Linked DNA regions of Homo sapiens: region 1 is linked to region 2. Evidence: fine-mapped expression QTL. A gene starts in region 2. The other region holds a variant in brackets. All regions are shown on one strand. Distances are between the middles of the regions. Region 1 has its middle 9.7 kb from the start of TOP1MT. Region 2 holds the start of RHPN1-AS1 (RHPN1 antisense RNA 1).

Evidence for each region. PIP is the estimated chance that this variant, and not a neighbour inherited with it, causes the effect.
Region 1: its variant is fine-mapped to the expression of RHPN1-AS1 in whole blood (TOPMed, PIP above 0.99). The same link has a PIP of 0.9 or more in blood mononuclear cells.

The regions. Positions count from the first base shown.
Region 1 is chr8:143,338,033-143,351,096 of GRCh38, reverse strand. It overlaps a transcript of TOP1MT not described here and the pseudogene RNU6-220P. Among named protein-coding and RNA genes, the nearest start is that of TOP1MT, 9.7 kb to the right of the region's middle. RefSeq lists an enhancer at 11,223-11,960. The variant A/G (reference allele first, on the strand shown) is at 9,291.
Region 2 is chr8:143,360,468-143,375,916 of GRCh38, reverse strand. It overlaps RHPN1-AS1 (RHPN1 antisense RNA 1), which reads left to right and starts at 7,282. Exons shown (of 1, transcript NR_026785.1): 1 at 7,282-9,294. RHPN1 (rhophilin Rho GTPase binding protein 1) reads right to left here and starts at 7,041. Exons shown (of 15, transcript NM_052924.3): 1 at 6,870-7,041; 2 at 249-364. The coding sequence starts at 6,929. RefSeq lists enhancers at 4,973-5,879, 5,880-6,787, 7,528-8,083 and silencers at 6,575-6,624, 6,825-7,284, 7,295-7,364.

The sequences.
Region 1 (13,064 bases), 24 kb after region 2:
AAGGCAGGCCAGGGTGATGAGCTGTAGAGGCTGAGGGAGGAGGAATTTGACCCGATGATGAAGGCGATCAGATACCAAGGTGGGCGTTTTCACTGAAGCGACCAGCGGGAGTCTTGCTGAAACTGGACTAAGTAGGTCAAGGACTAAGCCAAGGTCAGGGCCTGGTCGAAGAGGAGGACCCAGGAGCCAGACTCAAGTGTGGTCGAGGACAGTCTCTGTCGGTGGGGAGTGCTTATAATTCTGCATGTGCTTGAAATTTTCCAAAATAGGAAGTTTTCTAAAAATTTAAATTGAAGTAGATTGCAGTAAAAATAAAAAGAGAACCAAAAAGTCTGTTCAGATGCATTGGACTTTGTTTCAATTCTGATTTACAGAAAGATTTTTTAAATGATGAGACAATTAGGGAATTTGAGCACTCCGTGGATATTCGATAATAAGGAATTTGTTTTTTGAAGTGTGATAGTGGGCTGGGTGCTGTGGCTCACGCCTGTAATCCCAGCACTTTGGGAGGCCTAGGCAGGAGGATCACTTGAGGTCAGGAGTTCGAGGCCAGCCTGGCCAACATGGCGAAACCCCGTCTCTACTAAAAATACAAAAATTAGCCAGGCATGGTGGCAGGCGCCTGTAATCCCAGCTACTCAGGAGGCTGAGGCAGGAGAATCACTTGAACCCGGGAGATGGAGGTTGCAGTGAGCTGAGACCGTGCCACTGAACTCCAACCTGCATGACAGAACGAGACTCAGTCTTAAAATAATAAAAGAAAAGAAAAGTGAAAAGAAAGAAAGAGTGATGGTGTATAGTGGTTGTGTTCTTTAATTGTTTTTGTGGAGAGCGTGATGAATTTGCCTGTCATTCTTGCACAGCGGCCATGAGAATCTTCTCTGTATTGTTCCACTTTTAGCGTATGTGCTGCCGAAGTGGGCACGTGGTTGTGGTCTTTAACGGAAGAGTTTGCATCTTTGGACATAATTGGAGATGTTTGTGGGTGAAACGATGTGCTGTCTTGGAGTTGCTTCAGAATAACCCAGTGGGGAGAGAAGAGGGTGGGCACTCAATGGAAGGAGATGGGATGTGAGCTGATAAGTTTTGAATTGGTGTAATGGGGTTGTGGGAGTGTATTAATACTTGTCAGACTCAAATGAAAATACACAGATGAGGCCCAGCACGGTGGCTCGTGCCTGTAATCCCAGCACTTTAGGAGGCTGAGGTGGGCAGATCAATTGAGGTCAGGAGTTCGAGACCAGCCTGGCCAACATGGCGAAACCCTGTTTCTACTAAAAATACAAAAATTATCTGGGCGTGGTGGTGAGTGCCTGTAGTTCCAGCTACTCGGGAGGCTGAGGCAGAAGAATTACTTGAACCCACGAGGCAGAGGTTGCAGTGAGCCGAAATCATGCCACTGCACTCCAACCTGGGTGACAGAGCAAGACTCTGTCTCAACAGAAAAAAAAAAAAAGTGTACAGATGAATCTCTAAACAAAATGTTTTATTGGGAAAAACAGAATTGCAATTCAGGCATACACACAGACCAGAGTGGTCTTTGGTCCCAAGAACGAAGAGCATGCTGGGGGGTTTATTGGAAAGAGAAATGTTACCTATTGTTTTGAAAGAAAACACATTGGCACTAATGAAGTTTTGGGGAGCTGGCAAGCTCAGATTGGTGAAAGACACAGTAGGTAAACCTAGTCTTTGGGTCAGGTAGGTTGTTCCAACAGCCATTAGGTACACCCGGTTGTAAGGTTGCAGCAGGTCATTTCAGCAGCTAGACTTGCAGGGGGCAGGGGGGTGGGAGGGGGGCTCTGGGAGCAGGTGCCGTGTGCCTGAGAGCTTTTCCTGGGTCCCTCGACTCTGATTTGGTTGGGTGTGGTAGGAAAAGCTCAATTTGTATAATGAGTTTTCATAAGCCGTTCTCTCTCTGTTTGTGTGTGCTTGAGATTTTCTCTAATGAAACATTAAACAGAAGAGGCTCATGGCCCGCCTGTTGGTCTCTGGTGGGTAGTTTTGTGGTGAGGAGCTGAGAACCTGCCTCCTGAGGAGAGGATCCTCAGGTGATTTGGCTGCTGCCCTGGAGACCGCGGTTCTGCCCTCTAAGCCAGCTACGAGCATTCTGTGCAGGCAATAAGCAATGCCTGGTCATAGCTCACAGTTCTGTAGGTCAGATGCTCAAGTGGGTTTGGCAGGATTCTCAGCTTAGGGTGAGTTGGGGTGTGCTGAGTCGGGGTACGCTGGCCGGGCTGGGCTCCTGCCTCAGGGCACCAGGCTCCTGGGAGTTGGGTCAGTCCCTGTAGCTGTGGGACCAAGGGCCGTTTTCTGGCTGGCTGTCAGCTGGCGTCCATTCTCCATGCCCCTCCATTTGGCCCTTCATCCTCACAGCCTGCAGAGGCACCTGAATCCAGTCTCTGACTCTCCCTGTCACCACCTGGAGGAAACTGCTTTTCAGCGGCGCATGGGGCTAGATCAGGCCCACCTGGAGGGCCCCCACCCCCCCCCACCCCCCAGCTCTCAGTGAGTACAAGAGTGACACAGGATGAAATATGCTGGTCTTCTTAGGACCCTCCTGCCACACCCCTGCAGGGCACCCCTTTACATGGCAGGATTAACAGGCTACACAGCTGGGCTTGTGGGGGAGGTCGGTGGGGGGTGTCTGTCAGGTGAGTGTGGGACAGAAGGGCCACAGGGTCACATGGAGTCTTGAGCCGTAGCTGCGGCTCAGGGCATGAAGTCCTGGGCCCTTTCAAAGCCGTGACTGGGTTTTCTATCAATTCTCTTGTTGCCCCAGGTGGTCTCATGGTCTTACCACCCCTTGTGCTGTCCTCTGTGTGGACATTTTCTTGTGATTTTCTCACATGTCTGCTGCTCACTATTTGTGACAATGACTGAGGGACTTTGGAGCAGGGAGCTGGTGGGAGTATCTCTGGATGGGGCGGGCCTGGGTTTACCAGTGGGCTTTGTCCTGAGTGGGGCCTCTCCAGGGTGGTAGGGCTTAGGCGGCAGGACTTTCCAACTCCAGGAACTCCACTCTTAGCACAGAAGGAGGCCCTGGGTGGAGGTCCCCTCTGGCTTGCAAGGCTGCTGTGGGATGTGGAGGCCCTGGTCAGGCCCCACATCTCCTGGGCACCCTCCATGGCAGCCACCCCTCCTCACCCTCCTCAGCGTGGGGAGACCCCTGGCTGCTACAGCTGCGTCACAGAGGAGCCTGCTGAGCTCCAGGTACCCGTCCTCACCTCGGTGCCTGAGCTTCGAGGCCTGGCCTGCTGTGGGGCTCAAAGCGGTGGTCCCGCACAGCCCACCTTGGACTGAGGGTGGCTCTGCCCTCTCTCCCATTGTGCTTTATAAAGTTCCTGGATTGTTTCAACTCTTCCCCGCTGGCTGGCTGGCTGGCTGGCTGGCTGGCTGGCTGGCTGGCTGCCTGCCTGCTGTGGTTTCAATGTTCCTTCTAAAACTCAGGTTGCAATTTAGTTGCCATTTGTAATACTTAATACTAAATAGTAACTACTTTTAAGAGGTGAGGCCTGGCCAGGCACGCCTATAATTCTAGCACTTTGGGAGGCCGAGGCAGGTGGATCACTTGAGGTCAGGAGTTCAAGACCAGCCTGGCCAACATATAGTGAAACCCCGTCTCTACTAAAAAATACAAAAATTAGCTGGGTGCGGTGGCTCATGCCTGTAATCCCAGCACTCTGGGAGGCCAAGGCGGGCGGATCACGAGGTCAGGAGATCAAGACCATCCTGGCTAACATGGTGAAACCCTGTCTCTACTAAAAATACAAAAAAGTTTGTTGGGCATGGTGGCGGGCACCTGTAGTCCCAGCTACTTGGGAGGCTGAGGCAGTAGAACGGCGTGAACCCAGGAGGCAGAACTTGCAGTGAGCAGAGATCGCGCCACTGCACCCCAGCCTGGGCGACAGAGTGAGACTCCATCTCAAAAACAAAACAAAACAAAAATTAGCCGGGTGTGGTGGCGTATGCCTGTAATCCCAGCTGCTTGGGAGACTGAGGCAGGAGAATCGCTTGAACCTGGGAGGCGGAGGTTGCAGTGAGCCAAGATCACACCACTGCACTCCAGCCTGTCCACAGAGTGAGACTCCATCTCTCAAAATAAATAAATAAATAAATAAATAAATAAATAAATAAATAAATAAAGAAGTGAGGCTTTTGAAAAGTGATTTGGCTCTACCCTCATAAGTGGACAATGTTGTTATCTTGAGAGTAGATTTCTTACCATGGGAGTTGGTTCCTGATCAAAATCGTGATTTTGCTTAGTGTCCTCCCTCTGACCTGTGCGCTAGTTCATCTTCTGCCCCTGGGGTAATGCAGCAAGAAGGTCCTTGCCAGATGCAGCTTCTTGATTTTGGCCTTCCCAGCCTCTGGTGAGCCAGATAAATTTGTGTTCTTTATAAATTGCCCAGTCTGTGCTATTTGTTACAGCAGCAGAAAATGGACTAAAATACATCCCCCTTCCTTCTCTTTTTCTCTTTTTTAAGATGAGGTCTTGCTGTGTTGCCCAGGCTGGCTTCCAGTTCCCGGGCTCTAGTGATCCTCCCATGTCAGCCTCCCGAGTAGCTGGGACTACAAGCATGCTGCTATACCCAGCACAGCCCCCTTTCTTATTCTCTTGTGCTGCTTTGTTTGTTTAAAATATATCTTTTTTTAAAAAATCATTTTGTGAGATCTTGGCAAGGGAAAGCAAATTTGAGGGGCAATGCCTGGTCCAAGAACTAAGTTTCTGGGTGTCTCAATATCCCATTAGTTGGGTGGTAAAAGTGCTCTATGAAGATAACCCCTTTGGGTGTTCTGTTCCTGCACTGCCTGTAAGGAGTTTGGAGCAGCCTCATATTTAGGAACCTGGCATTTCCTCTTCACTCCTGAGCTTCAGGAGGCCTGGCATTGCCTTCGGAGCTGTTCTGGAGGTGAAACAAACCCTTGGCCAAGAGCCAGAAGAGCTTCCCATTCTCCTGGGCTCTGGAGTCACACAGGAGCACTTTGTGAGAAGTGAACTTTACAGACACATTATCTACACGTGATAAACTGTACTCGTTGACAGTGACCATTGGATGAGTTGTGGCAGAAGTGTCCCTCTGGAAAGCCACTGCCACACTCAGAATACAGACATGTCCACACACACTCGACCATCACCCCTGCCCCCGGCATCTCCCTGGTGATGATTTCTGCAGGTGTTTCCTGCGGATGTGCTGATAGGGCAGAATCAGACCCTCCACAGTCTACCCCATTAACAGTGGGTTGTTAGATAACGGTTTGTTTGAAAAGCAATGCAATAGTAAATGCTTTGTGGGACTTCAATTTAGAAAAAGTGTCGATGATTTGGATTTTGCCATTTTACTGATGACTGACTTCATCAGTATAGTTTAAGTGTGAATTACTTTATCTCTTCTCTGTGTTCTGGTACTATGTAATGTATTCTTCTATAATTTATGAAAGCCCTGAGTTGGCGCTAAACTTTTCTACTAAATTAATGCAAGCCTTATCTGTATTTTAATTTAAAACAGTGAAAAACTCTCTGCTGAAGTGCCAGCCAGAGGTGTGGGAGTATAGCCCGAGAGGCCCTGTTCCACGTGGGGTGTGAGTGACACCTCCCAGCCGCGCGTGGCAGCAGGAGCTGGAGGGGCCAGCCTGCTTCTCTGTGTCTGTGTCGAGTTTGCAACTGTGTCCTCCGGAGACCAGCAGACGCCTCGGGCTGGCATTGCTGGGCTCCTGTGCCCAGTGCTGGTTCAGACCTTTTCAGCCACCAGGGATGCCCTGTGGACCTGCCTCCTGCAGGGCTCTGCCAGGTCAGGCATGGGGGTGACCTCGGCTGCCAGTGGGCTTGTGGGCTCTGCCCCTCAGTGCGTGGCTCTGCCCAGTGAGGGTAAGCTCCTCGGGAAGGACTGGCTGGTGCCTGCAGTGTGGTACGTGTCTGTGTCCGGGGACTGGGACCTGTCTATGGGGAGTCTCCCATGCATACTCTTTTACAAGCCCCTGTGCTGGCCCAGGTGGAGCCAGGATTGTGTCATTGAGTTGGGATGAGGTAGAGAATGAGTTACCTTTTAACACGGCCCCTGGGTCTCTTATTGCTTAAAACTTTAACGTTTCCTTCCTTCTGATTTTTCTACCCCAGACTGCAGCCCGTGCTGATGACTGTGGCTGTGATGAATTCGTGCCTGTGACCACAGCTGCTCTCCAGGTGCTGGGTGGCTCCTCCCTTGACGCCCATCCATTCTGTCTCCTGCCTGGCCTTGTTCACTGTCGCTCATCTCGCTCAGCTGAGGTCCCTCCTCCTCCGCTGTTTGGTGTCCTTGCCAGTTAATCACCCTTAGGTGCTGGGCCCTGGACTTACGGACAACATGGAGCCTGGCTTGTTGACAGGACAGTGTCTGCGCCTCTCCGTCTACACCCCCACAACAGGGGTTACTGGGGAGGGGGCGTCTGGGAGTGACAGAGATCGCTGTGGGGTCTGTGTGACCATCAGCTGTCCCTGTAGCTGGGGAATGGTGCTGCGCGGCGGGCGGGTGGCACAGTGAGCAGCCCTGGGTCCTCACTGAGTAAGGGAGTGGCTGGGGAGTGGGGAGGCTTGCCTTTGTATCCTGGGTGGGCATGGGGCTGGGGGAGTCACGGAGACCTGGAGGACCAGCTGCTGCTGGCCAGTGGGTGGTGGTGTCTCAGGGCCAGCCCAAAGCCTCCTGAGCTCCTGCCACTGCTACTGAGTGCTTCCTAGCCTGTCCCTCTGGTGTCCCGCCACTCCTTCTTCCTCAAGCAGGAGGGCTGAGCTGGGCTGGGGCAGAGGGGGCCTCCCACGGCTTCCCTGTGGGACTCTAGGCCTCTGCAGTCAGCACATCCTGAGAGGACCGTGGGTGTCTGCTGCCCTTCCCTCCCTAGTCCTCTCGTTTCGGTGAAGCGGCTCCTTCTGTCTTCTCAAGCACAGACCTTGGTGTCATCTTTGAGGGCCCCATCCTTGAGGGCCTAGATTCCACATGAAATCCATCTATGAATCCTGCTTTCCAGCTGTGTTACAACAGGGCCTCCTCTCACCTTTCTCGGCTGGCCCAGGCCTCTGCCTCAGTAGGGCTCTAACATGATTTTCAGAAATCTCACAGGTTTTTCCTTGCAAGACGCGTGTTTCACTGTGTCTCCAGTCTGCATGGATGTGGGCGTGTGTTGTGATGGTCAGATGGTGGAGTGAGAGCAGCCATAGTGTGAGGTGTGGGTGAGGGTGGCCAGTCAGCCGATGAGTGGGAGCGTTCAGACCGGGGTGCCTGGTGCCCCCATAACCTCCTCGGGGTTCCCAGGGATGGCGCCTCTGACCCAGCGTGCAGCCCGAGGTGGGCCCCGTGCCATTCCCACTTAAGCGAAGTGTCTGTTCCTCTCTCTGTTCAATGTGGGTTTTGTTTCTGAATATATTTTCTCACACTTCTTCTTCAAAAGTTACTTTGGAAAGACTGTTTTTCCAAATTGATGATCTCTGAACTGCTGTGGTGTTGGTGGGGACAGAGATGGTCCCAGAGGGGACCTGGGAGCTGCCTTTTACTGCCTGCCCACTCTTCCCGAGGCCGGGAGGGGCCTGAGATGTGTTCGCAGCTTCTGGCCTCGGGCGGGACTTCCCACCGCCAGCTGGTGCTGTGCTCAGAGTCAGAGGTTCCTTGATGCCCAGCACGTGGGTCACCAGCAGCTTTGCCAGGTGTACTTTTGAAAAATGAGAAAAGGGTCATGAAGAGCTTGGGAGGCTTCCATGAGGTTGTTCTGACTCTCTGTTGTTAGAATGGCAACCCTAAATGAGCCGCAGAGCTGCATGTTTATGTATACATTTGAATTCTAGATTTGCACAGATCACCACGCCAGTGAAGACTAATCACCATGAAAAGCCACCCAAGAAAAAAGGCCAAGTCGGCATCTTAAATAGGAAATGAATGTGTGAACATGATTCTGATAAGCAACTTCCCAGGCACTCATGCCTGATGAATGCTTATTCTTGCAGATATGACAACACAAATGAACTTAGTGTCTGATTTTCTTCTAAGATTTTATGGTGAAATAAGTTAGCAGGCCAGGCGTGGTGGCTCATGCCTATAATCCTAGCACTTTGGGAGGCGGAGGTGGGTGGGTCACCTGAGGTCAGGAATTTGAGACCAGCCTGTCCAACATGATGAAACCCCCTCTCTACTAAAAATACAAAATTAGCCGGGTGTGGTGGTCGGGAGGCTGAGGCAGGAGAATCGCTTGAACCCGGGAGGCAGAGGTTGCAGTGAGCCGAGATCACGCCACTGCACTCCAGCCTGGGTGACAGAGCGAGACTCTGTCTCTAATAATAATAATAATAATAATAATAGAGCAAGACTCTGTCTCTAATAATAATAACAGAGCGAGACTCTGTCTCTAATAATAATAATAACAGCGAGACTCTGTCTCTAATAATAATAATAATAATAGAGCGAGACTGTCTCTAATAATAATAATAATAATAGAGCGAGACTGTCTCTAATAATAATAATAATAACAGCGAGACTCTGTCTCTAATAATAATAATAACAGAGCGAGACTCTGTCTCTAATAATAATAATAATAACAGAGCGAGACTCTGTCTCTAATAATAATAATAATAACAGCGAGACTCTGTCTCTAATAATAATAATAATAACAGAGCGAGACTCTGTCTCTAATAATAATAATAATAACAGAGCGAGACTCTGTCTCTAATAATAATAATAATAACAGCGAGGCTCTGTCTCTAATAATAATAACAGAGCGAGACTCTGTCTCTAATAATAATAATAACAGCGAGACTCTGTCTCTAATAATAATAATAATAACAGCGAGACTCTGTCTCTAATAATAATAATAACAGAGCGAGACTCTGTCTCTAATAATAATAATAATAGAGCGAGACTCTGTCTCTAATAATAATAATAACAGCGAGACTGTCTCTAATAATAACAGAGCGAGACTCTGTCTCTAATAATAATAATAATAACAGAGCGAGACTGTGTCTCTAATAATAATAACAGAGCGAGACTCTAATAATAATAATAACAGAGCGAGACTCTGTCTCTAATAATAATAATAACAGCGAGACTCTGTCTCTAATATAATAACAGAGCGAGACTCTGTCTCTAATAATAATAATAACAGCGAGACTCTGTCTCTAATAATAATAATAACAGAGCGAGACTCTGTCTCAATAATAATAATAATAACAGAGTGAGACTCTGTCGCTAATAAGAAGAAGAAGAAGGGGGAGGAGAAAGAGGAAGGAGGAGGAGGAGGAAGAAGAGGAAGAAGAAGGAAGAAGGAAGCACTAG[A/G]TGGGGCAGTGGTGTCGGGATAGTGCTCTGTGACCTTCCCTTTCTGGTGTTTTGTGTCTGGGTCAGGGTGGACGCTGGCAGTATGGCCTGTTGCGGCCTGCACCTGCTCCGGAGTTGGGAGCAGCCCCAAGCTGACCCCTGGCTCCTTTGTTCATTGCCCTTGGTTTCTGCTCCTGACAGAGGCCACAAGGGCTGAGATCAAGAGGCCATTTTCCAAAGCTGAGTTAAAAGCATCTGTTAGGCCCATGGAGGGCAGCCATTGCTGGGGTGGGGAAGGTGAACCTTCCCTCCTCCTCTGGGGTCTCCGGGTGGGTATGTTTGTGGCCCTGTGGCCCCTCTCATGGTGTGTGCTCTCTGTTCTGGGCAAGGTCCCAAGGCCACACGGAGGTTCCTGCAGACAAGATGAAGATGGCCCTTGGTGGATGTGCCCGGGGTCCTGACACCCAAGAGAAGAGATAGAAGGGCATGGCCCTGCAGGCGGTGCCCAGCCGGAAGGGGGCTCTGGAAGAGGACCTGGACTGTGAGCTCACAGACACTGGCCGGGGCAAGGGCTGTGTGGAAGAGAGGCACAAACTGAGAAAAAAAAAAGAATATCCGAAGAGAAAGGGGAGAAAGGGCTTCAGGACAAACGTGTGGGGAGATGCACTGGGGCGGCAGCACGAGAAGAGGGTGGCGGGGACGCTAGGGGCAAGCCTGAGACCCTCAGCTGTGGGGAGCGGAAGAGTGCAGGGGCCGCCGTGGGAGCTGGGGAGGAGCGCGCTCTGGGCAGTGGGATAGACAGAGCAGTTCCCACAGAAGAGGTGCGAAGCGTGGCCAGGAGCAGGTGCACAGTGAGGGCATGGTGCCCACCCCAGCACGGAGGACGAGCCAGGGCCACACTGAGCAGAAAGGAGAGTTACGGGCCAGGAGACAAGCACAGAACGAGGACGAGGATGTAAAAGAAGTGTGGGTGGGAAAAACCAAGAAAGAAGAAAGTGACAAATTAGGTAGTGGCACAAAAGTGGGACAGGAGGCCTTGGTTTCCAGAAAAGAAAAGAAGAGGGAGACAGACAAAGCTGGGGAAGAGGGGACTCGAAAACCAAAGAAATGAAAAGCTCAGGACCTGGAGGAAGACAGAGAAGTGCAGTGTGGGAGTGAGCTGGACGGGGCACCACAGCCAGCGGCGTGGCCTCGCCATTGCCCTGGGGCAAAGGGTGACTGGGAGGTGGGGGGCCTGGTGAAGAAGCCCCAAGAAGAGAAAGCTCAGGGCAGCCGGAAGCCAGCCAGAAGCAGAGAGAAGTGGAAGGAGGGGGAGCCAGTTGATGCTGGGGTGTCCAGAGGGAGAGAAGAAAGATGGCCAGGAGGCAGCTAAGCCACAGGAGGAGAGCCAGAAAGGGTGGGAGAAGGCCGAAGGCAGCAGGTGGAAATGGTGTGTACCCTACCCCACCCCTTCTCTCCCTCCATGTCCTGACGGGGTGGTGGGAATGCTGTGTAGACCAGTGCTGGGAGGGGGGGAATGCTGTGCAGACCGGTGCTGGGAGGGGGGAATGCTGTGTAGACCAGTGCTGGGAGTGTGGGAATGCTGTGTAGACCAGTGCTGGGAGGGGGGGAATGCTGTGTAGACCAGTGCTGGGAGTGGGGGAATGCTGTGTAGACCAGTGCTGGGAGTGGGGGAATGCTGTGTAGACCAGTGCTGGGAGTGGGGGAATGCTGTGTAGACCAGTGCTGGGAGTGGGGGAATGCTGTGTAGACCAGTGCTGGGACGGGGGAATGCTGTGTAGACCAGTGCTGGGACGGGGGAATGCTGTGTAGACCAGTGCTGGGAGTGGGGGAATGCTGTGTAGACCAGTGCTGGGACGGGGGAATGCTGTGTAGACCAGTGCTGGGAGTGGGGTAATGCTGTGTAGACCAGTGCTGGGACGGGGGGAATGCTGTGTAGACCAGTGCTGGGAGTGGGGGAATGCTGTGTAGACCAGTGCTGGGACGGGGGGAATGCTGTGTAGACCAGTGCTGGCAGGGGTGGAATGCTGTGTAGATCAGCGCTGGGAGCAGGGGAATGCAGTTTAGACCAGCACAGGCCCACTTCCCCTCCCTGTCCCTGGTGGGGGAGGCGGGGAGTGCTGTGTAGACCAGTGCTGGGAATGTGGGAATGCTACAGTGCTGGCCTTTGCCTGCCCACTGTAGGTTGCCAGGGAGCCTGGGTGCCCCCCAGAGTGCCCTCTTGCATCGGCAGCTTTGAGCTGTGGGTTGTAGGGTACTGGGAGCAGCCAGCAGTAAGTGAGTGTTTGCTGTGTGTCTGGCATTGCTTTTGGTCAGTCCTCTATGAAGTAGGTACTGCTATGTCCATTTTTCAGATGAGGAAACTGAGGTACAAAAAGGTTAAGTAACCGGGCCAAGGTCACATGGCCACAAGTGGGCCACACTGCAGTTGTAGCCGTCACCCCTGCTGTGTCCTGTACGCAGCCACGAGCTGCGCAGCTCTCCCAGTGGAGACGTGCTGGGGGTGTGATACGCACGCCTGCTTTGAGAAGAACGATGCATACCATCGCATTAGCATATTATGTTGAATGACAGTATTTTGGTTGAAATAGTTGAAATTAAGTATATTGTTAAGGTCAAAGTCACTGTTTCTTTTGCAGTGTGGCTTCTGGATGGGGTAAACTCCACCACTGCTCGCAGCTGTGTCTGCTGGGCGGCGCCGCCTCCCACCTGGGCAGTCCCTGCATAGCCTTGGAGCTCCGGCTTCTGGGTGGGAAACGTCTTTATAGGTATCAGCTCCTGCATTCAGCACCTGTTTGATTCTGGGGAAATTCTTTAAATTTTCTAAGCCTAGTTTCTCTCATGCAAAACAGGGGTCCTCCTACCTGCTGTGAGGAAGAGTGCGTGAAGCCCTGTCCCCGCTCCCTTGGGCAACCCCTGAGTGGCCTGGGGAAGAAGAGGGCACAAGGGGAGGAGGCCGCCAACCCCAGGAATATTGGCAGACAGTTCATAGAAACCCCTTCTGGTCTGCAGGCCCAGACTCCCCAACTGTGTCTCTGGCCTTGTGCAGTGGGTGCCACTTTTCCACGCCCTCCCCAGCATGTTGACTGCAGCCACCCAGGTGTGAGGTGACCTCACTGTGGGTTGGATTTGCATTTCTCCCATGGCTGATGATTTTGAGCATCTTTTTACAGGATTGTTGGCCTTTTATATCTCATCTTTGGAGAAATGTCTATTTAGATTATTTATCCCCCTTTTTAAAATTAACATTTTTTTTTTTTTGAGACGGAGTCTCATTTTGTTGCCCAGGCTGGAGTGCAATGGTGCGATCTCAGCTCACCACAGCCTCCACCTCCCGGGTTCAAGTGATTCTCCTGTTTCAGCCTCCCGAGTAGCTGGGATTACAGGCATGAGCCACCACGCCTAGCTAATTTTGAATTTTTAGTAGAGACGGGGTTTCTCCATGTTGGTCAGGCTGGTCCTGAACTCCCGACCTCAGGTGATCCGCCCGCCTTGGCCTCCCAAAGTGCTGAGATTACAGGCGTGAGCCACCAAGCCCAGCCAAAAAAAAAATTTTTTTTTAAGAGATGGAGCCTGTTGTTCAGGCTGGAGTGCAGTAGCCTGATCATAGCTCACTGCAGTCTTGAACTCCTGGGTTCAAGCAATCCTCCCACTCAGCCCCCTGAGTAGCTAGGACTACTGTAGCAGGACACGTTGCAGACAAAACCTCTCGGACACCGGTTTTAGGGAATAAGAGGTTTTAATCAGCTGGGAGCATCAGTAGAATCGCCTCTCAAGATCCGGGCTCCCCGAGGT
Region 2 (15,449 bases):
TCCCAAGCTGCACACCCGGCAGGGACACTGGTTTCCTGGCACCTCCAGCCCAGCACAGAGGCCCACGGAGGCAGGTCTGTGAGGGTCATGGCTGAGCATCACGTGTACTACGTGCCCACCAGGACCCAGCTGCTCATGCACCTGTCTCTGTGACCCGGCCATGGGGCAGACATCTGCCTGCGTGGCTGTCCTGCCCCCCTCACCCAGGTGGGCCCTGCTCCCGGGGCCGGGCAGTCTCAAGCACTGACCTGTAGAGGTTCTCAGCGCCCGTCCGCATCTGCAGCTCCTTGTCAATCTGCTGGTGAATCTGGGCCCTGCGGCTCTGCAGCTGGCCGCACTGGATCTGCGTCAGGGAGTCACAGCCCTGCAGGGAGGCCACAGGCGATCACAGCCCGACCCCGTGGCGCCCGCACCAGGCTGCGCCTCGCCAGCCACTGAGAGGAGTGCATCCTGCCCATGGGTAACGGGATGGTCACCATGCGCTGGGGCTGGAGCTGGCCTCACAGGGAGGGGCTGGACAGAACTAGTGTGAACACAGGCCTGGCCAGAGCAGGACAGGAGGCAGTCAATGCAGAAGGACGTGGTCGGTGGGGTAAGCTGCTGACTCGTGATGGGGGTCAGCGGGGGAGGCTGGCACCTGCCAAGGACACCAGAAGCCAGGGTCTCACCAGGCAGCCTGGACAAGTAGGGGCTCCGGGAGCCCTGCAGGAGGCGGCCCACTGCTCCTCACAGCCTTCCTTCTGCGCTTCTGGATTTCATTCTGGATCCCCCCCTTGCCCCTCCCAATTTTTTTCCCATCCAACTCACCCACGCCTCCAAATCATTCCCATGTGGGTTTAGGCGTGGGCTCAAAGGACAGGGTCCCTGAGGCTCTGGGGGCGGCCACTGGCCCCCGATGGTTGGTGCAGAGGCTGCGGTCTGACTTTGGGAATGGTTCTCGAAGCGAACGCACACCCGTGCCCTCCCTATCCACAGAGAAATGACTCTGAGCCTTGCACCCAGACTGCAGCCCCGCGGCCCTGCCCAGCACCAGCCATGGCGAAAGAGTGGGGCGTGCCCAGCGGGGCCCCTTCTGGACTTTGATGGCTCCTGTGTCGTCAGTGGTGCCAGCGTGCTGGAGCTTACATTTCACTCTAGGGAGATCCAGTTTCATGCCTCAGCCCACCCCACCCTTGTGGTGTTGGGGTCCTGCCCACATGATCCTCACGTGTCCCTCCCTCTCACCATGGCCTCCCAACCCCCACTCTTCCCCGTGGCCATGTGGGAATGCCTGGGTCTCCACCCGGACAAGATTATTTGCAGCTACCTGTGGCTGTCCCCTGGGTGGGCTCCCAGGCGTGGGCTGGCTGGCTTGCCTCTCCAGCACCCACTCCTTCCATGCTTTGAGACCCACAGTGCTGCTCAGGGCTCACTGCTCAGGGACACTGACTCCCACCCAGCCCTGGGGCGAGCCTGGTCTGAGTCAGGCGTGGCCAACCTGGCCATTTCTGCCAGTCAGCAGCAAGACAAGGCCTCTGGTGGCTCCTGGGACTGCTTCCCGCCCTTGTCGGGAGACAGGACCTCTTCTTCCCCAGGACCTTGTGGCGTCTGAAGGTGAATCTTGCCACCATGAAACTGACCTACCACTGCATGAAGCTGCGGATTCATGGGGCCAACGTGCACACGCACTGGGTCTTCCCCTCTGTGGACCCGACACCCTCTCCACGCACACACGTCTCTCAGGCCTTCCCGTCTTCCCCGTAAAGAGCTCACACGTGTTTTCCTGGGTTTTCTCCTAGATATCTGGAGAGAGTTCTTTTTGCTAATGTGAACGAGATCTTTGTGTGCATTTTAATTAGTTTATTCCCATTATACAAGAAAGGTTTGATTTCCTAGACAGAAGGCCTGCTCGTCCAGCCCCCCAAAATCACAGCAGCCAGCTGAGCGGGTGACCATCTATTATGGGTGAATTGTGTCCCCACAAAAGACAGGTTCAAGTCCTGACTCCCAGTACCTGTGACTGCAATTTTTCTAGAAATAGGGTCTTTGCAGATATAATGAGTTAAGATGAGGCCACCCTGGAGTAGGGGGTCCTTAATCGCAGTGACAAGGGTCCTTATACGAGGTGGGGAATTTGAACACAGTCACATGGAGGTGGCCATGGGAAGGCAGAGACAGAGACTGGAGGATGAGGCACCGTCCCCTGGAACCCACGCCATCCCCCAAATCCCCGCCCCGTCCCCTGGAACCCGCGCCATCCCCAAACCCCCACACCGTCCCCTGGAACCCACACCATCCCCCAAATCCCCGCCCCGTCCCCTGGAACCCGCGCCATCCCCAAACCCCCACACCGTCCCCTGGAACCCACGCCATCCCCCAAATCCCCGCCCCGTCCCCTGGAACCCACACCATCCCCCAAGCCCCCGCCCCGTCCCCTGGAACCCGCGCCATCCCCAAACCCCCACACCGTCCCCTGGAACCCGCGCCATCCCCAAACCCCCACACCGTCCCCTGGAACCCACGCCATCCCCAAACCCCCACACCGTCCCCTGGAACCCACACCATCCCCCAAGCCCCCGCCCCGTCCCCTGGAACCCGCGCCATCCCCAAACCCCCACACCGTCCCCTGGAACCCACGCCATCCCCAAACCCCCACACCATCCCCTGGAACCCGCGCCATCCCCAAACCCCCACACCGTCCCCTGGAACCCACACCATCCCCCAAGCCCCCGCACCATCCCCTGGAACCCACGCCATCCCCCAAGCCCCTGCACCATCCCCTGGAACCCACGCCATCCCCAAACCCCCACACCGTCCCCTGGAACCCACACCATCCCCCAAGCCCCCGCACCGTCCCCTGGAACCCACGCCATCCCCAAACCCCCGCACCGTCCCCTGGAACCCACGCCATCCCCAAACCCCCACACCATCCCCTGGAACCCGCGCCATCCCCAAACCCCCACACCGTCCCCTGGAACCCGCGCCATCCCCAAACCCCCACACCGTCCCCTGGAACCCACACCATCCCCCAAGCCCCTGCACCATCCCCTGGAACCCACGCCATCCCCCAAACCCCCGCATTGTCCCCCAGACACCTGTGCCATCCCCCAAACCCCTGCGCCATCTGCTGGACACCCACGCCATCCCCCAGACACCTGTACCATCCCCCAAACCCCTGTACTGTCTGCTGGACACCCGCACCATCCCCTGGACACCCAGGCCGGCAGCCTCCTGCTGAGTGCTGGGGTGAGGGAGCCTGACGGAGGTCCCTGAACTGAAGATGAGTTGGCGCTTAGGGGCCGGAGGGAGGGACACAGGCGGCCGGAGGGATGGACACAGGCAGCTGGAGGGAGGGACACAGGCAGCCGGAAGGAGGGTGTGCCGGCCCAGGACCCTGGCCTCCCCCAGCCCAGCCCTGCCCCCGTGGACACCACCCAGCAGCGGACGGGCCGATGTGCACTTGGGAACCCTCACCCTGCTCCCGTTTCTCACTCCCGCCTCCTCCAGAAAAGAAATTCCCTCCAGAGCTGCTTCAGGGACTCGGGCTGGAGAGGCCCACAGGTGGGAGAGGGGCATGGGCGCCTCAGATCTGAGAAGCTCCCTGAACCTGAGGCCCGCCCACCCCCGCCTCCCATCCCTACCTTTCCCACCGGCGCTACCACCTCGAGGGCCTCTGCCCAGTACCTAGGAGACCCCCGTGCCACCCACCGCAGCTACACCCCCTCCCCGCAAAGGCCCCGCTGCAAGGCTCCAGCAGCTTTAAGGGCTCTGGCTGTGCGACGGGCATCAGACACCCAGCCAGGTCCCTGCTCCCCTCCTGGCCCCAGGAGAGCTGCGGGGAGCCTGGCCCCTTGGAGCCCCACAGGCACCTGCTGTGGGCCTGGTCCATTCCTCGGCCTCCCTACCCGCAGTGCTCCCTGCAGGCCAAGTGACTTCCCGGCCTACAGGCGGAGGAGCAGACCCGAGCCGGACCTTTGAGGCTGGGTAGACCTTGGAGGTGGGCGGCCCATGCCCCACTTTCCACACTGGGTTGAAGGTTGAGCCCAGTGGAAGGGGCATAGACACAGGCGTTCAGGCCCCTACTCCTGCTACAACCTCCCCACCCTCTGGAGACAAAGGTGACCTGGAGCTCCCCACCCCCACGTCCACGGTGCCCTGACACCCCACTGTGGCCATTTCCGCCTTGCATTAGGAAAGGACAGAGAGGCTGTGGTCTGTGGGGGTCCCGAGAGGCAGCCACACATGAAGGGCCTGGCCATGCCTCGATGGAGAGGGACGAAGAACAGAGAAACAGCCCCCCAACCCTGACACTGGGGCTCCTCTGCCCAGGAGGAAACAGTGTGGCCCTGGCCAGAGTGGGGCTGACCTGGGGACGGGCAAAAGGCAGAGATAGTTATCCCAGCCCAGGTCTGGGAACAGCAAAACATCAGAGCAGGGCCAGACCTCCACTCTCCCCCAGGATCCCCTGGCCCTGGGCCAGGCAGTCCCCAGGGAGAGGTCACCCACCTGGAGCAAACCAGCTTTTTCCCTTCAGAGCCCTGGCCCTGGGCACCCTGTATGCTGACAGCCACCCATCTCAGGTACCCCTCTCCTCTGCCCCCACTGAAGTCTCACCTGAATGCAAGAACTGGAAGCCCCAGGAGGGTGGAAGCCCAGCACCCACCTGACCCACCATCTCTGCCCCCCACTGATGAGGGAACAGAATTCAAAGGGCATTGCTGCACAGGTGTCTCCTGGGACACAGGGCTATAAGCAGCACGCACGCCAGAGGAATCATAGACTGGCCACTCACGGCAGGGACTCCCACTCTCTCTGATGCTCCCTGGGGTACCCAGGCACTGGTGCTTCCTGAGCACCCCTCTTCCTGGAGCCCAATCTACCTGGGCAGGGGCCTGGGAACCTGTAACCAGCACCCAGAGGGTGCTCCTGTCCAGCCAGGCTGGGGAACCTCAGGCTGACCCACTCGGCATGCTGGAGACCAGGTGAGGGGGGCACAGCCACCCTGCCCACCTGCTGCTCCAACGCTCTCCCTCTGCAGCCTGCTCCCCCTTCTCCCACTGGCCTCCCCAGGAAACCACAGAACCTTCTGCATACAGCCAGGCTGTATTCCTTGTGGTCCTCCCCCGGGAGCCCCTGCAGCCCCTGCGGGAGGGACGGCAGCTGGGTTGGCCACCCTGGGCCGTGCCAGGCTTCTCCCCTTCCCAGCTTGGCAGCCTTGGCCACTTACTCACCCTGTTCATCAGACGGGCTGAGGCCCAGGGCTTGGGAGGCACCAATGGCAGGACTCCAGCTGTAGCACTGGCCCTGGCACCAGGTAAGCGCTTGCTGGAAGCCTGCTCTCATCACGCCTGGGGCAAATACAAGTCACCCAGACCTGTCCACAGGGCCTCAGGCCCAGGTGTGGCCTCTAAGTGGATGAACGACCGACCCCTGACCCACTGAACTCTGAGCTTTAGGGCCAGTTTGGGGGCCAGCCTGATGGGGGTGGAACAGGCCTCACTCTAGCCCGGCAGCAGGCATCGGGGAAGACTTTCCAGATGGCAGGACAGCCTGAGTGGTGCGCGTGTGACACAGGGCCTGCCTCCGCCCCACTGCCACCTCCCACGGGCCCCTCCCCAGTACCCTGACTGTGGGGTCATTTCTGGACGCTGTGAGAGACACGGCAGCCTGGAAACAGCTTCTCCCCAACTTTCCAAGGTGGCAGCCCAGGGAGGGCCAGGACAGGGAGCCCAGGCACAGCCCCCAGCCTGAAAAGCGTCACCTCCGGAGCCCTCTGGGACATCTTGTTTGTACAGCCTCCCAAACATTCCACCCAAAACAACATGTGCCGTCCCAGGCCACCTGCAGGCATGGCCGCCCTGACAGAGCAAGTTCATAGGGGGCAGGCACAGGCTGCCTCTTTCCCTCCAGTGCCCAGGAGGTGCTGCAGCCTCTGGCACGCCTCGGGGTGGGCAAGAAGGGCGTCCTTGAGGGCTACGGTCAGCATCACCAGCCCAGTGACCTGAAGCCAAACCCTGGCTGATAGCACCGCCTCCTCCTCTAGGAGACCTAACCCCAAACACCAAAGCCGAGTAGAACCAGCCCAGGGACAACACAGTCTGACGTCCCAGAGGGGAGGAGGGCCGCGCGCTATCAAAGGCTCACCCGGGGCGAGGAGCAGGAGCAGCCCGCGGCTGAAAGCCCGTGGCGGGCGTGGGCGCCCAGGGCCTGGCAGGAGGACTGGGGCAGCCTCGAGCTGGTCCGCAGGGAACAAGCAGGCTCTGGGCTGCAGAGCAAGGCCCACAGACGTCCCCTCCTTCCCAGGCACAGACTCAGCAGGTCTCCACAGCCCTGCCCACCCCTCCCACTTGCCCAGTCAGCACCCCGGGTTAGGGACTTCAGAAGGGAAGGAGGTTTGGGAAGTGAGAAGAGGCCAGCCGGGAAGACCTCTCTCGGTTTCCCATACCCAGGAGGCTTCGCTGCCCGCTGCTACCAGTGCACCCAATGGGCATGCAGTTCCTGAGCGGATGCAGAGGGAGGACCGAACTAGGGAAGGAGGCTGTACAGGTGCCGGAAAGGAACACGATGGCGGGTGTGGGGAGGGCGCTCACAGAGCCCAGCCCCACATCCGCCCAGAAGGGGGACACGAGGAGGGCGTCCCCCCAACCCGCTTCAGCGGTGAGGATGATCCAGACTTTGGCTGTCCGCATTTCCCGGCTCACATGAGTGGCCTGGAAGCACCTCCACCGAGCTCAGAGGAGGAGGGACGCAGGCTCTGGCCTCAGTTTCCCTGCCTGCGTCCGGGCCGAATGAGACGTAGGAGGGGGGCGCCCGGAACGCGCCTCGAGGGGGGGCAGGAAAAGGCCGGGATTCCGGGCCCCTCCTCCCGCCGCCGCGCCAGTTCTGCGCACCTGCAGCCGCGGGCTCTCCTCGCCGGCGCCCGCGCCGTCCGGCCTCTCCTCCAGGATCATCGCCGCACCCGCTGCGCTGGGGGTCCCTCGGGGTCAGCCAGCCCGCCGCTCGCGCAGCGCTCCGCAGCCGGGCTAGGGCCGCCCGCACCACCTGGGCCGCGGGCTCCTGAGTGCCCGCGCCGGTCCCCGACTGTCCCTCCTGAGTGGGGGCGGCCCGCGGCGCGGCTGGGCGGGGCACGGGTCTGGCGTGCGAAGCTGGCCATTGCCCAATAGGCGGCAATGCCGCTTCGACGGACAGCTATATCAGCCAACCAGAGTTCCAGGAAGGCGGGCTCTGGACGGCCAGCTCCGCCCGCCCGCGGGACGGTAACCCCTGGCAACCGCGGCCGGAACGCCCGCGGCTGGCTGGCAGGTTGTACTGCGCATGCGCCGCGGCGGCCGCTGAGCGTGCGGGAGAAGTTCGGGAAACGGAGAAAAAAACTATACGGAACGTCCCAAGCTGAGAGTCAGGGCGGACCTGGACTCGGCGCGCCTAGCTCCTCGGCTCCCTTTGCGGGGACTCCAGGAGTCTGCCCGCTCGCGCCGTTTCGTCCTGTCACCCCGGCAACGGGACCCTCTAAGAGGCTTGTTCCAAAAATGTTCACAATGGGGTTTTTAAAAACGGTTTTGTTAGGGACAAGTGCTTGTGTGAGTCCTCCGACAATGCCTGCTTTCTTCTCTCTGCCCGCGGAGCGGAGGCTCCAGGCCTGGCCCCAGTCCGAGGCGCCTCTGTCGGTGTCGTCCTGCTTCCAAAACCGGCCTCCAGAACCCGCCTCCTTCCAGAACCTCCGTCCAGAACCCGCCTCCCTCCAGAACCTCCGTACAGAACCCACATCCTTCTAGCACCTGCCTCTGGAACCCACGTGCTTTCAGAACTACCTGTTTGTAGAACTTGTTTCCAGAACGAACCTGCTTTCCGAATCTCTTTACTTCCAGAGCTTGTTTCCTGGACTGACCTATTTTCAGAACCTACTTTCAAAACCAGCTTGCCTCCAGGACCACCTGCTTGGAGAACTGGCCTGCAGCCCCAGGACTGGACGACCTGAGACTGCACAGCTCCCTGCGGGGCTCACCCGGCTGTGTGTGTCCTTCCGGGCCTTCCATACTTCCCTAGGTGTCTGGTGACTCCGGAGCCCGCTCGGATTTCGTGTGGGTCTCGCCTCAGCTCAGAACACACCCTTTGAAGAGCAGGAAGGCCAGGGCACAGGCGGTAACCACGGCTCCTGGTCATCAAGTTCCTCTGAAGCCCAGGTCTTGTCCACGTTCACTGCCCCACCACAGGCCCAGCGGAGCCTTGGAGCTGAGCCCTGGGATCATTCTGGTGCCTGTGCTCCCGGCTCCGCAACAAGCACACAGGAGCCTGTCATCCCCAGATCTAAATCCTGAAGGCTAAGCTCCGTGGTCTGCCGCAGCCATCTGCAGCAGGCCCCTCCCAGCAACAGCCTTCTCATAAGGCCCCTGCCAGCCACGCGAAACCTCCTGGCTAGGGCCTGTCTTCCACTCCTGGCCTTTTGAGACAGGGCCTCACTCTGTTCCCCAGGCCGGAGTGCAGTGGTACGATCACAGCTCACTGCAGCCTCCACCTCCTGGGCTCATGTGATCCTCCCACCTCAGCCTCCTGAATAGCTGGGACTACAGGCTTGCACCACCACACCCGGCTAATTTTTGTATATTTTGTAGAGACAGGGTTTCGCCACATTGCCCAGGCCCAGGCTGGTCTCAAACTTCTGGGCTCAAGCAATTCATCTGCCTCAACCTCCCAAAAGTGCTGGATTACAGGGATGAGCCACCATACCCGGCTTTTTTTTTTCTTTCTCCTGGCCTTTTGGGGCCCTTGAAGTGTCTGCTCCCTGGGAGCCCTTCAGCTTGTCGTCCACTTGGTGGGTTCCCACCCGTCCTTCTCACTTCTGCCTGAATCACACAGGCTACATGAGACCTTCACCCACCCCCTTCGCCAGCAGCTCTGTGGTTCAAGTTTCCTCAAGGTTAGGGGCTCCTGGCCATCTTACCTGTGGGCCTGAGCATGGGCCGATGCTTCCAAAGTTCACACTGGGTGCACTTGTGTGGGGACTTCCATGTGAGTCATCTCCTTGCAGGCTGCCAAGGTCCTGTACAGCAGAGACCCAAACCCTCTTAGCAGTCTTCAGAGTCAGCTATGTGTACAGGAGGCATTACCATATCAGTGACTGTCAGCAAGCATGTGTGACTGAAATGGTATCCAGTTCTTACGTATTTGTTTTGCAGGCTTCTTGGTTCAGCAGACAGAGGCCATTGGGAAGTTAAGAGAGGCTCTCAAACTTTGAGGGTCATAAGACTTCCCCTCCCTGCAGGGTGCTGTTTCCTGAAGGAAAATATTCAATTACTATTTTCTTTATTTATTTATTGAGATGGAGTCTTGCTCTTGTCGCCCAGGCTGGAGTGTGTGCGTGTGCGTGTGTGCGTGTGCGTGTGTGTGCGTGCATATGTGCGTGTGTGCGTGTGTGTGTGTGTGTGTGTGTGTTGGAGGGGGGTGGTGCTGCCTTTTTCTTTGCATGCTTCTGTGTTACTGGATTTGGCACAGCAAGAATGTATCACTGCACTCAAAAAATTTAGAGTTTCCTTTTTGTTTTTTTAAATTATTTTAGATTTGGAGGTACATGTGTGGGTTTGTTACATGTGTATTGTGCACTTCTGAAGTTTAAAAATTTAGGGGGAAAAATGAAAGGATGGGAGGTGAGAAAGTAGAGGAGAATTTTGGTGTGACAGGCAGGGAACTGGACAGCGGCGGGAGGGGCACGGCAGTGAGCGCCGGGACCTTTTGCAGATGAGGTGATAATTGCTGATGGGGCTGCTTTATGCTCGTTTTCTCTTTTGTAATTTATAAAGAAAAAAAAATTGAGACAGGGTTTCGCCCTGTTGCCCAGGCTGGTCTTGAACTTCTGAGCTCCAGTGATCTGCCTGCCTTGGCCTCCCAAAGTGTTGGGATTATAGGTGTGAGCCACTGTGACTGGCCTTTTTTTTTTTTTTTGAGACAGGGTGGCTCTCTGTCGCCCAGGCTGGAGTGCAGTGGTGTGATCACAGCTCACTTCACTGCAGCCTCAACCTCCTAGGCTCAGGCAATCCTCCCACCTCGGTCTCCCAAGTAGCAGGGACCGCTTGCATGCGCCACCACATCCAGATAACTTTTGTATTTTTTGTAGAGATGGGGTCTCGCTATGTTGCCCAGGCTTGTCTCAAACTCTGGGCTCAAGCAATTGGCCCACCTTGGCCTCCCAAAGTGCTGGGATTACAGGTGTGAGCCGCTGTGCCTGGCCTGCTTTATGCTTTTATATGGACCAGTACTTTGCAAGTGTGAGCCTGGCAGACTCTTGCTGCAACCAGGAACATGCAGATTTTCCAGATGGGCAGGAACCTGGGCTCCTTTCTGAGCCTCCACATGTCCTGGGTGAAGACCTCAAGGTCTGGAGAGACTGACTGACTCACCCAAGGCCCAATGGCTGTGAGCGGGAAGCCAGGACTCCTCACAGCGCCAGCTTCTTCCATGCATGCCAGCCCATCTGCAGAGCCCGGTCAAGCTCAGGGGAACGCCACCACTGAACCAGAGAGGCAGCCAGGAGGAGGGGGTCTAGATAGAGAAATGTGGAAAAAGCAGCTGATTCCAGAAATTTCCTGCTTGGCCTGGATTAGGCCATGCTGGGGACTGGCTGCCCCTTGCCCAGTGGGTGCTGGGGCATTCAGGCTTGGGGTCTTTTAGGTCAGCCCTAAAAGTTGATGATTTGATGCTGATCGCTGGTACTTACTTCAGCTTTCCTTCTGGTTGGAAGCCTTAATTAGTGGAGGTTGCTGACACTGTTTATGCGCATCGGTATTTTTTTAGAATGTGGAGTGGAAGAGGTGGGCTTTGGGGGACTGGCTAAACCCCAAGAATTTAACTGGCCGTGTATTTTGGCCACTGTTGCGCCTGTTAAGATCTTGGAGTGTGGGTTTGCACCTGTATTTAGAGGTGCACAAACCCACACAAATTCAAGGATAAATAACTGCAAGGCCCGAAGAGAACACGCTCTCCCGCTGCACGCAGGCTGCTCAACTGTGATGAATGGAGTAACAGGTACCACAGGGCGAGCAGGACGCCTTCATCAATGGTGGTAATAGCCACCAATGCATCATCTGTGGAGGCAACAGGAGGGACGGCTGGGGCAGAATCAACAGAACGTGAAAATGAATTGTTTGTAAATACAATCAACAGTGTTATGTTCGTGAGAAAGCCATTCATCATTCAGAAACCACCTTTAGTAAAAGATGCACCTGGCTTCCCGGTGAGACGGGGCCATCAATCCCTCCCCAGTCACAGGGTCAGCTCGGGGCTGCCTAAACCCCCAGAGAACAGACACACATATTTATTCTTATTTGAAAATAAGAGTTGTTAAAAAAAAAAAAGAGCCACTGAGAACATTAGCTTGCCGGGAGCATGGTAGAAGGAGCCACATGGGGACAAAGAGAGCTCTTTAAAGCCCTCATCTTCTGGGTGCCCTGCCAGGCCCTGGTGGGGCCTCCGTAAGCAAGGAGCACCCAGCCTGCTCTGGGACCTTCCCGGGCTGTGTGTGCTTATGTCCCTCCCGGCCGCTGAGGGACCTTCCCAGGCTGTGGGTGCTCATGTCCCTCCTGGGTGCTGAGTGTGCTTAGGGAGGGAGGGAGGGAGACGCCCATGGTTGGCCTGCTGGCTTCTGGAGAACTGCACTTTTCTGGCAAATAAAAAGAAAAGGATATGGGGAAGGGGAACACATGATTGTCCTTGGAATGTGGCAGAGTGGCCTGCTGTGGACTTTCCTCTGGTTGCCAGTTTCATTCTTAGGACAGTGCCTTGGTGAGGGTGCCCCGGGCACAGCACACTGGGTTTCTGCAGTGGGCACTTACTGGCACTGATCCCAGCAGCTGGATGCACCTGTGGCGTGTTTTATACAACTGAAGCGACCATGGCCTTCTGTGGTCCAGCCTGGTGCAGAGCCCACCGCCATAGAGCAGTGATACTGGAACGTGTGTGAGGGTTGCCGGTGGGTTCCACGGGGCGGTGGGAGGAAGAGGTGTAGAGGACTCCGACACTGTTTTGGCCTTGGCAGCTCAGAGATGGCTGGTGTGACCACCATACGGGGACGGTTTGGGAGGAGGAGGTTTCGGCAGGCAGAGCCTTGGGTTTGGGATGCTGGGCTGGAGCTTCTCTCACACAGCTCAGGGGAAGGGTCCTGAAGGCTGCCGAGTCTCCAGCTCAGGGGCCAGGCTGGAGGCCAAGGTCCACACTGTAGACGTCTTTGCTATACAGTTGCTGGGGACAGAGTGCCAGGATAGTTCACGACAGTGGGCCCAAGGAGGAGGGCAACAGAAACAGGGTCAGGTGGCCCCCAGGAGCTCAGGGAGGAACCAGTTCCAAGGGAAGCCAGTGACCAACACATGCGCCATCCTGCGCCATTGACAGCAAGACCAGGCTGCCAAGAGTGGAGGAGGCTGGTGGAGACCCTGTTGGAAGTGGTCTCAGGGGGCTTTGAGAGTGAGACCTTTTCTTTTTGAGACAGGCTGTCTCATTCTGTTGCCCAGGCTGGAGTGCAGTGGTGTGATCACAGCTCACTGCAGTCTTGAACTCCTGGGCTCAAACAATCCTCCTGCCTCAGCCTCCCAAGCAGCTGGGATTACAGGCATGAGAAACCATGCCTGGCTCATTTTTGTATTTTTTGTAGAGACAGGGTCTCCCCATATTGCCTAGGCTGGTCTCGAACTCCTGGGCTCAAGTGATCCGCCAGCCTCATGAAAGTGTTGAGATTACAGGCATGAGCCACTGCACCCAGCCAAAGAATGAGAGTGCTTCAACGGGGATTAAGGTGAGTCAGAAGAGCAGAGACGGCCATAGGGAGTGGGCACATTTGAATTCTGAGGACAGGTGCAGTACTGTTTGTGGGGCCAGGGGAGGGCTGATGGGTGGCTGGCACTTAATAGGGGGCGTGAAGTGTTCAACCACGGTAACAGGAGAGAAGATGGAGGGGAGCAGAGGTTTGGTGGGTGGGGGGCACAGGCGGGACAGATGCCGTGTTGGGAGTGTGGGGTACCTCTGTGGATTGTCCCCAGGTGTCAGTGACACAGGAAGCAAGGCCTCTGCCCAGAGTGGCCAGGGAGGGGAAGCGGGCAGGACGGGCTGAGGACAGGGGCCGGGGCCCAGCCGAGGTACATGGAGGCTCAGAAGACCGAAGGCTGGGCTGGACCAGGGCTTAAAGGGAAGGAGAGGGGCAAGGGCCAGCCCCGTGGTGGCTCAGATGAGGATTGTGTCTCGCTGAAGTATTGTGATGCACACAAGAAAAACGTTCTTTTTTAAAAATATTTTATTTAATTTTGAGACGGAGTCTTGCGGCCGGGCATCATGGCTCACGCCTGTAATCCCAGCACTTTGGGAGGCTGAGGCGGGCAGATCACGAGATCAGGAGATCGAGACCATCCTGGCCAACGTGGTGAAACTGCGTCTCTACTGAAATACAAAAAATTAGCTGGGTGTGGTGGTATGTAACCCGGGAGGCAGAGATTGTAGTGAGCCGAGATCGCGCCACTGCACTCCAGCCTGGTGACAGAATGAGACTCCGTCTCAAAAAAAAAAAAAAAAAAAAAAAAAAAGAGACGGAGTCTTGCTTTGTCGTCCAGACTGGAGTGCAGTGTTGCGATCTTGGCTCATAGCAACCTCCGTCTCCTGGGCTCAAGAGATTCTCCCGCCTCAGCCTCCCGAGTAGCTGGGATCATAGGCACGCGCCACCACACCTGGCTAATTTTTGTATTTTTAGTAGAGACAGGGTCTCACCATGTTGCCCAGGCTGGTCTCAAACTCCTGGCCTCTAGTGATCCGCCTGCCTCCGTCTCCCAAAGTGCCGGGATTACAGGCATGAGCCACCACACCCGGCCAAGATAAAAGTTCTTAATTCCAAGGACTGTTAATCATTTGTGACCTAATCTAGATTCAGTCTGGATGGAGTCTCTGATGTCATTACTGAATACCTTGTTGTCAGACATTTTTGGATACAATTTATAGTTTTTGAGCCCTTCCCAGTCAACTGAGGCCAAGGCTTTTTCCCCAAATCTGAGACCACCTAGGCATAGCTACCCTCGAAAATGTACATCATCAGGAAATATGGATCATCTATTTACCAAGCAAAAGAGGGAGCATTATTCAGTGGAATCAAAACCTTCTTCTCCCTGAAAACCTGTTTCTATTTTCCACGTGTGACTAATTTTTAATCTCGGTGACTGAGCGGTAATGGTGTTGTCACTGATGCTGACGATGGGCTTTTTAAAAAGCATATGATCTATGCTGCCTTCATAGTATCCTTTTTTGGTTATTGTTTCTGTGGCTTTCTGAGTAAAATAAGCTCAGCGTCTGTGGCTCTAGCAACCCCGGCGCCATTGTAGAGGAGATGCCATCTGCATGCAAAGGTTCTGCGGTGCCTGCTCCACAGAAGGCTGCCTCTCCTGGCCATTACTCACCACAACAGGAAAACAGCTATCTGCCTATGTCCATTTGTTAAGAAGGCAGTAACATGGCATCTTTAATAAACTCAAATAAATGCACTAAAACTTATCACAAAATAGCCAAGTTGTAAAGTGAAGGAGTGTTTGTAATAACCTCTTCTGTCTTCCCCAAGTGTACGTTTTCCAGGCAGTTCTCCTTACCGTGACAGGGCTTTAGGGCCAGAAGACAGCGCCACTCACCGGACCACCCAAACTAGAAGCCTGGGCACCATCCTCAACTCGCTCATTCTCATTTCCACACCCTACTAATTATCAGACACCTCCCCTCAACCTCTGCAGGCCTGCGGTTTAGGCTCCTACTGTCTCTGGCCTGACCAAGCCCTGTTTCCTCCTGACCTGCGAGCAGTGTGCCCACTGGTGCCATCATCTCTCTGCAACATACAGGGGATCATGTGGGGGTGGTGCTCCCCGGTGCCCGCACCATCGTGTCAACACGCGCCAGCCCTTCCCCAGCCCCACCACGCACACACATGCAGTGCGGCTGACGCTCTCAGCACCCTGCCTTTCCCATGCACCCCAACGCCCCCCCGCCCCCAGCACCTGCAACTTCCTGCCTGAGCGCTTTTCTCAGTGCTTAGGGGTGCTGGCCTATGCCCGGGGCTTGCTGGAAGTGCAGTTGGCAGAGGTGGGGCGGCAAGGATGGCCCCTCAAAACCAGAGCAAACCCACTCGGAACTGTGTCCTGTGCTCTCCCAGAGGCCTCCAGGAGGACTAGTCCAGGGGCCCCGGCTCTCACCTGCTCCCCAACACGTGTACTTCCCTACTCCCTTACCTGTGCTTCCTGAGTCCACCTCCCGGATAAAATACCTGCAGGAAGAGCCTGCTTTGGAGGGAGCCGTACTCCACACTGGCCACCGGTGGCCACTTGCCGTGCCCTTGTACACAGAGCTCCCTCTCGGCCTGGAGGCCTTCGTCCATTCTGCTACCGCGGCCACATCCGCTCAATTTTCCAGACTCAGCCTCTGGGATCTCACGTCACCCCAGACTCACGGACCCCGACATGGCG